Homo sapiens: one gene and its partner. The protein of the gene in region 1 purifies or fractionates together with the protein of each later gene. This does not show direct contact. Each region holds a gene or a part of one and is shown on either strand. Other genes may lie near its edges.

What was found. The genes of interacting proteins can lie anywhere in the genome.
Region 2: the proteins of UGT1A6 (region 1) and CYP3A4 purify together in Homo sapiens (affinity purification with western blotting; one study listed by BioGRID). This does not show direct contact.

What each region holds. Positions count from the first base shown.
Region 1 is NC_000002.12:233,691,449-233,695,689, forward strand, and holds the start of UGT1A6 (UDP-glucuronosyltransferase 1A6 isoform 1 precursor), read left to right. Parts: upstream 1-1,441; 5' UTR 1,442-1,556; coding exon 1,557-2,417; intron 2,418-4,241.
Region 2 is NC_000007.14:99,767,185-99,770,684, forward strand, and holds part of CYP3A4 (cytochrome P450 3A4), read right to left. Parts: intron 3,052-3,500; coding exon 2,938-3,051; intron 2,673-2,937; coding exon 2,584-2,672; intron 1,319-2,583; coding exon 1,170-1,318; intron 75-1,169; coding exon 1-74.

The sequences.
Region 1 (4,241 bases):
CCTGGGCCCCAGAACACCTCCGGTGCCAAACTTGTGGGTGGGAACAGGAACTCGCGTGCCAGCCAGGTGTGCATGACTAGCTCTGGGCAAGTCTGTTCTAGTAATTCAAGGTACCACCTCTCACTGGGACAGCCTAGTTTCTACACAGGTCTTGCTCTGGGACCGCCCTCAGCAGTGTGGTTAGCAGGCAGGGCCAGTGTGACCCTCCCTTTCTGGGCCTCAGTTGAGAAACCTGAAGCTCAGGAGAGGAGTCACTCCCCTGGCAGATGGGTGGCTGGGCCAGAAGCAGATACCAGGCTTTCTGACTCCTGCTCTAGGATTCTCACCACGTACTGGCTAGACTTATACTTCTCAAATCTTAATTTCCTAAAGGCAAGTAACAGTTTGAATGTTGTTATATTGTGATGTATAATAAGAAATATATGTTTGTCTTTGTTTCCTGGACACAGCTCCTGAAACCATAAGTGGTGGGAGCGATAAACGTGAACAAAGAATCTTTTGTTATTCAAAACAGATCCCTTTCGATCACACCTAAGTTTATGTAAAGGAGATGTAAAGTCTCTAAGGATGAGGGCTAGTTGCCAGGGAACAAAACCCTTGCGATTAGAGGGAAGAAAGGAGAGAGAGATTGAAGATTGATTTGATCACCGATGGGCAACAATCTAATCAATCATGCCTACTATGTATGGAAGCCTACATAAAAACTCAGAAGGGCAGGGTTCAGAGAGCTTTCAGGTTGCTGAAGGTGTGGAGGGTGGGGCACCCAGAGATGGCAGATGGGGCTCCATGGCCATACCCCCATATCTTGTTCTTTGTACTTTTTCCTCTGGCTATTCATCCGTATTGTTTGCAATATCCTTTGTAATAAACCAAACCTAGTAAATAAACTGTTTTCTTCAGTTCTGTGAGCCATTCTAGCAAATGATTGACTCCAAGAAAGAGGGTGTGTGAACCTCTGATTTTTGCCAAGTCAGACAGAAGTTGTGGGTAACCTGGGGACCTACTACTTGCAATTGGTGTCTGAAGTGAGGGCAGTCTTGTAGGACTGAGCCCTTAACCTGTGGGGTCCGTGCTAACTCAGAATTCAGTTCAGAATGGAATTGAATTGTAGGATACCCAGCTGGTGTTAGAGAATAGGTCCGTGTGCAAGAAAAATTCCCGCACATCATGGACATAACAGACAACGTCAATGATGAGGAATCCAGCAAGTTCGGGATAGAGAATTGGCAGGGGGTCCTCAGGGGTCTCTCCAAGTCATCTTCAAAGTGTTGCTATAACTTTTCAGAGAGGGAGAAGCAGACTTGTGGAGCTGAAGAGAAACACCCAGAAGCTCAGGTGAAAGCTGACACGGCCATAGTTGGTTCATATTAACCATGTGATTAAAATGGTTAAATATTAATTTGGGTTCTTACATATCAAAGGGTAAAATTCAGAGCAAGGGAGAGGTAGACAGGACCTGTGAAAAGCAGTGGTTAGTTTAGGGAAAATACCTAGGAGCCCTGTGATTTGGAGAGTGAAAACTCTTTATTACCGTTGTTACTTTAACTCTTTCCAGGATGGCCTGCCTCCTTCGCTCATTTCAGAGAATTTCTGCAGGGGTTTTCTTCTTAGCACTTTGGGGCATGGTTGTAGGTGACAAGCTGCTGGTGGTCCCTCAGGACGGAAGCCACTGGCTTAGTATGAAGGATATAGTTGAGGTTCTCAGTGACCGGGGTCATGAGATTGTAGTGGTGGTGCCTGAAGTTAATTTGCTTTTGAAAGAATCCAAATACTACACAAGAAAAATCTATCCAGTGCCGTATGACCAAGAAGAGCTGAAGAACCGTTACCAATCATTTGGAAACAATCACTTTGCTGAGCGATCATTCCTAACTGCTCCTCAGACAGAGTACAGGAATAACATGATTGTTATTGGCCTGTACTTCATCAACTGCCAGAGCCTCCTGCAGGACAGGGACACCCTGAACTTCTTTAAGGAGAGCAAGTTTGATGCTCTTTTCACAGACCCAGCCTTACCCTGTGGGGTGATCCTGGCTGAGTATTTGGGCCTACCATCTGTGTACCTCTTCAGGGGTTTTCCGTGTTCCCTGGAGCATACATTCAGCAGAAGCCCAGACCCTGTGTCCTACATTCCCAGGTGCTACACAAAGTTTTCAGACCACATGACTTTTTCCCAACGAGTGGCCAACTTCCTTGTTAATTTGTTGGAGCCCTATCTATTTTATTGTCTGTTTTCAAAGTATGAAGAACTCGCATCAGCTGTCCTCAAGAGAGATGTGGATATAATCACCTTATATCAGAAGGTCTCTGTTTGGCTGTTAAGATATGACTTTGTGCTTGAATATCCTAGGCCGGTCATGCCCAACATGGTCTTCATTGGAGGTATCAACTGTAAGAAGAGGAAAGACTTGTCTCAGGTTGGTGGGTTTATTTCTTTTGGACTGCCTTGTTTCTTCCAGGCTCTGTCCTCCCTCACTCATTTGGCTCCTTGAGCCGACTGTCCCTTGGAGGATTTCCTGGAGAAACGGTGGGGGGAAGTGATACCCGGCTCGGAGCAGCGGGAACACATAGGAGACCTGAGGCTGAAGTGATACAGAGGCATTCGGATGAAGACAGGGCTCATGCTTGGCAAGAGTAGGAGATTTGCTTAGTTGGATAATCTGGGACAGTCACATACTCATTGAATGAGCCTTAGAAATGTCCCAGTTCAAACAGAGGTGAAGGCTTGACTAAGGGAACAGGTCCAGGTTAAAATCCATTTTCCCAACTCTGTCCCATGCTTTGTCTCTGGACCTTGAGCCAGGGACCAGCGAACTACAGCCTGTGAGCCCAATCTGCCCAAAGGCCTGTTTTTTGTTTTTTTTTTTCCTTTTATGTTGAGACCTGTTTTTATATGGCCCAGAGCTAAGAATGGTTTTTGTAGTTTTAAAACAATTTAACAATGAAGAATATGTGCCACAGAAGTATTTGGTCTGCAAAGCCTACACATTTACTGACTGGCCTTTTCAGCAAAAGGGGTATGGCCTCTGACCTAAGACAAGTGTTTACAGATGCCCTCCTGACATGTAGGAAAAGGGCCCAGAGTTACTTTGGAAAATAAAAATCTGTGAGTTTTAAATTTCAATGTAAATATTTACAACTTTGAAGGGCTTCAGGCAACTCCCTCTATCTTTTATGCCTCAATTTTCTTTTCCAGTTCCTTTTTTATCAGAGAGAAAGCCTCAAACAGGTCCCAAAGACCCTTACCTCTCTTCTTTACACCTGCTGATTTCTCTGTTAACAATTTGAACAGTTGGCAGTAGCCACTGTGAAAAGGCAAGGGTGAGGGGATGGGGATAACTGAAATGGTTCCAGGGATTCTGGGGCATGAAATAAAAACATAGAATGTCAGGATTCTTTTAATTGGGACATAATATAGTTGTACACATTTGGGGGGTTCATGTGATATTTTGATACACGTATACAATGTGCGATGATCAAATCAGGGTAATTGAGATATCCATCACCTTGAACATTTATTCCTTCCTTATGTTGGGAACATTCCCATTCTTCATTTCTAGCTATTTTGAACTGCAGTATACATTCTTGTTAACCATAGTCACCCTACTGTGCTATCGCACTTTGGACTTACTCATTCTATCTAATGGTGTTTTTGTGCCCATTAACCAACCCTTTTCTTTTCTTTTTTTTTTTTTTGAGACAGAGTCTCACTCTGTCATCAGGCTGGAGTGCAGTGGTGCGATCTCAGCCCACTGCAACCTCCACCTCCTGGGTTCAAGCGATTCTCCTGCCTCAGCCTCCTGAGTAGCTGGGACTATAGGCATGTGCCACCATTCCCAGCTAATTTTTGCATTTTTAGTAGAGGCGGGGTTTCACCACGTTGGCCAGGATGGTCTCAATCTCTTGACCTCGTGGTCCGCCCACCCCAGCCTCCCAAAGTGCTGGGATTACAGGCGTGAGCTACCGCGCCCGGCCTTCTTCTTCTTCTTTTTTTTTTGATCAACGTGCTTTATTGGCCCTTTAGATGTTTTTCTCTTTTCTATCAAAGTTTTTGGAGTATTACAAATTTTATTTCTTTTTTCTTTTTCTTTTTTAAATTTTAACCAACCATTTTCACCCCCCCTTCCCTACTTACCCTTTCCACCTTCTGGTAATTACCAATGAACTCTCTACCTCCATGAGACCCACTTTTTTAGCTCCACATATAAATGAGAACATGTGGTATTTGTCTTTCTGTGCCT
Region 2 (3,500 bases), on another chromosome or scaffold:
AAAATTTGTAACTTCTCTTGGAAACACACAGATATTTAATACTTCAAGAATTGGGATGAGGAATGGAAAGACTGCTGTAGGAAAAACAAAACAAAAACAGAAAAAGAAATTCATTGTGAATGTGCAAAATTTACCTGGAGCAATTCTAGTTTTCTCTACCAACCAGAAGAGTAAAAGACATCAAGGTTCTCAACTGGAAGCCATTCCTTCTATGACTTTTGCCCCTCTTTCAGGCCAGTGGCTGAGCAAGGGCAGGTCTATGCATAAGGAGCACCGCTACAGCAGTGAGATCAGCAGCCCCTTGTGCATCTTTTGAAGGATAAAAGGAACAAAATTCAATGCCCTAATCTCTTTGCCTTTATCTATTGGACTACAGTCTCCTAGAATAACCCAAATCATAATCTGAAGCTCAAAATTAATCTTGCTGTTCAAGAAATAGTAGGTAGTCAAGATAGAAATAACACAGCATATCTCTGTCACCTATCATGGAATAAAGATAAAATCAATAAGGGAAAGAAAATTGAGAAACTCACACATATGTGGAAGTTAAATAATAAACATTTAAGTAACCAATGAGTCAAAGTAGAAACCAAAAGGGCAAATAGAAACTGTTTTGAGGTGAACAAAAACTAAGATGTGATAGACCACAATCTCATGGGATTTAGCAAAGGAAGTGCTCAGAGGGAAAGTTACAGCTGTAATGTCTAAATTTAGAGGAACAAAAAAATCACAAATCAGTAATCTATGTTCATGCCACAACATAGTAAACGAAGAAGGGCAAACTAAGCCTGAAGCCAGCAGAAGAAAGAAAATGATACAGACTAAAGTACAAATTCATGAACTAGAGAATAAAAAACCCTGATGAATTAATATCATTTCTATGAAGTGTCCAGAATAGGCAAATCCATAGAAGCAGAAAGTTGATTAGTGGTTGCATATGATGACAGGGTTTGTGACAGGGGGCTGATAGCTAAAAATGTATGAGGTCTCTAGATTGACAAAAAAAGTTTTAAAGTTTAAAATGATGATGGTCACACATATCTTCAAATGTACTACAAATCACTGAACTGTATATTTTAAGTGGATGAATTACATGGTGATTTATATCTCAATAAAGCAGTTATTTTTAAGAGAGCAAGATAAATAAAAGGAAATAGTAGTCCACATACTTATTGAGAGAAAGAATGGATCCAAAAAATCAAATCTTAAAAGCTTCTTGGTGTTTTCCACAAAGGGGTCTTGTGGATTGTTGAGAGAGTCGATGTTCACTCCAAATGATGTGCTAGTGATCACATCCATGCTGTAGGCCCCAAAGACGCTGAGTGGAGAAAGATGTGGAAAATTAAAATCAGCACCTTTTTACCATCCTTCCTCTATGCATGCAACAGGAAACCCACATGTCCAGTCAAGACAGACAAACAGCCACAGACTTTCAGATCTACTAGATCACCTTCTATCACACTCCATCAGAAGGTGTTATCAGGTGCCAGTGATGCAGCTGGCCCTACGCTGGGTGTGATGGAGACACTGAACTGAATTAGACCTACCTCTGAGATCAAGGAGCCCATCATAGGAAGACAGAGACCCACTATCAGACAACTACAGTAGCATGTATTGATTGTGGATGATACAAGATGGGTAAGCACTGTGCTTCAGCAGAACAAGAGTAGAATAATTAACTCTTCCTAAGGGGCTCAAGACAGGTGATATTGCCTGACTGCAGACTCTATGCCCAGAGCCGATTCCTCTTCAGCACTTTACAAAGCAACAGTACCCTGTTCTGAGCTCCTAGAAATATCATCCTTATTCTCTATACTCCCTGCTCAAGCTTTGGAAAATTCCACTATCCCCAGCTGTGGTGAGCTGAGGTTGCCCTGACAGCAGAATTATTTTTGTAAAATATAATGACCAATAATGTCCTGGTTAAAAAAAAATCTCTCAAAATTTGATTTGGAAATTTCTATAGTGAGTGACCACATATCCCTGGTCTGCCCAGGACAAACTCAGATTACACCTGTTTTTACTGCATAAGTGTAGATAGCAAATAATAGGCTTGCCCTACCTATAGTGTTTTTACCACCCTCTCTCTTTGAGACTGGAGGAAAAAGAAATGGTAGGAATTTTAATATTTAGTATTCTACTGATATCCTCAGAAAAAAACATGAAATGATCAAAGTTATTCTAAGTTCTCCATTATAACTCTCCCAACCTACTCACTGCCAACCAACAGATACCAAGTGCCTTCCCCTTCCACCATCCCATACACTCCATGCTTAAAACTTTGGTACAATCACACTTTTTCCCCCTAAAGGATATATTTAGTCTTCTAGAATATCCAAGGTGACAATTTAATGGATATGTAAACCCTGGCCCCTGTGCACAGGGGAGAAGATCCTTTTCCTCCAGCTGCCCCACCTCCTCATCGGAGCTGCCCCATCTTGGGAGACCCATTGAAGTTGCATTACCACAGCCCTCCTTTTGTCTGGTCACTGGAATAACCCAACAGCAGGAATATCAGCTCCATGGCAGGCAGCTGGAGGGGTTCATGACAGCTCAGAACCCCATGGCTGCGCTTCTACTTACTCTTTCAAGGTGACAGGCTTGCCTGTCTCTGCTTCCCGCCTCAGATTTCTCACCAACACATCTCCATACTGGGCAATGATAGGGACCATCTAAGCACAAAACACAACACCACCCATAGTTAAATGTGCAGACTCTAGTCCCAGAAGGACATGGCTTTCCCCAGCATGGAGCAGTAAGTGACATTTTATAATGAATTTTGTGATGTGTTTTCTGTACATAAAGATAAAAGACCATTTTTAGGCAGCTCAAATTCAGTGGACTACCCCTTGGAAAGGGACTGTGATCTTATTTTATACCTGTCCCCACCAGATTCATTCTTTAAGTTTCTTATTAAAACTCATGTTATTTTCATACCTCCTTGAGTTTTCCACTGGTGAAGGTTGGAGACAGCAATGATCGTAATCTCTTCCATTCTTCATCCTCAGCTATAGAGATGGCACTTTTCATAAATCCCACTGGACCAAAAGGCTAGAGTTCAAAGCAGAAACATTTTGTCCTACATCAGTTGTGGAGGTCTCCATGGTTGTAGAAAATGTGTTAAACAGGAACACTTATTCAACAACTATTTAGTGACTGTCTACTGGGTGATGGGCCCTATGCTAGATGCTCAATAGAGATTTATCCCAGATGCCCAGTGTCCTGGGATGTATTTGTGTGGGGCGGGGCGGGGGGGTGGCGGCAGTGTTCAGGAGACCCTGATGTCGTCTCCAGCCTCTATATCCCAGTCTTCTTTTACATGCAAATTATCCACGTGGTAGAGAATGTGTTCTTCCAGTACAATAAACAGAATCAAGACCTAGCACTTCTGCAGTGTAGAGACGGAGTGGAGACAGACAAGCAGGTGACTTTGGTGGATTGTATGTTGCCTCAGACAAGCTGTCTTTATGTTCTCCTGCAGCATGGGCAACGTGAAAAAG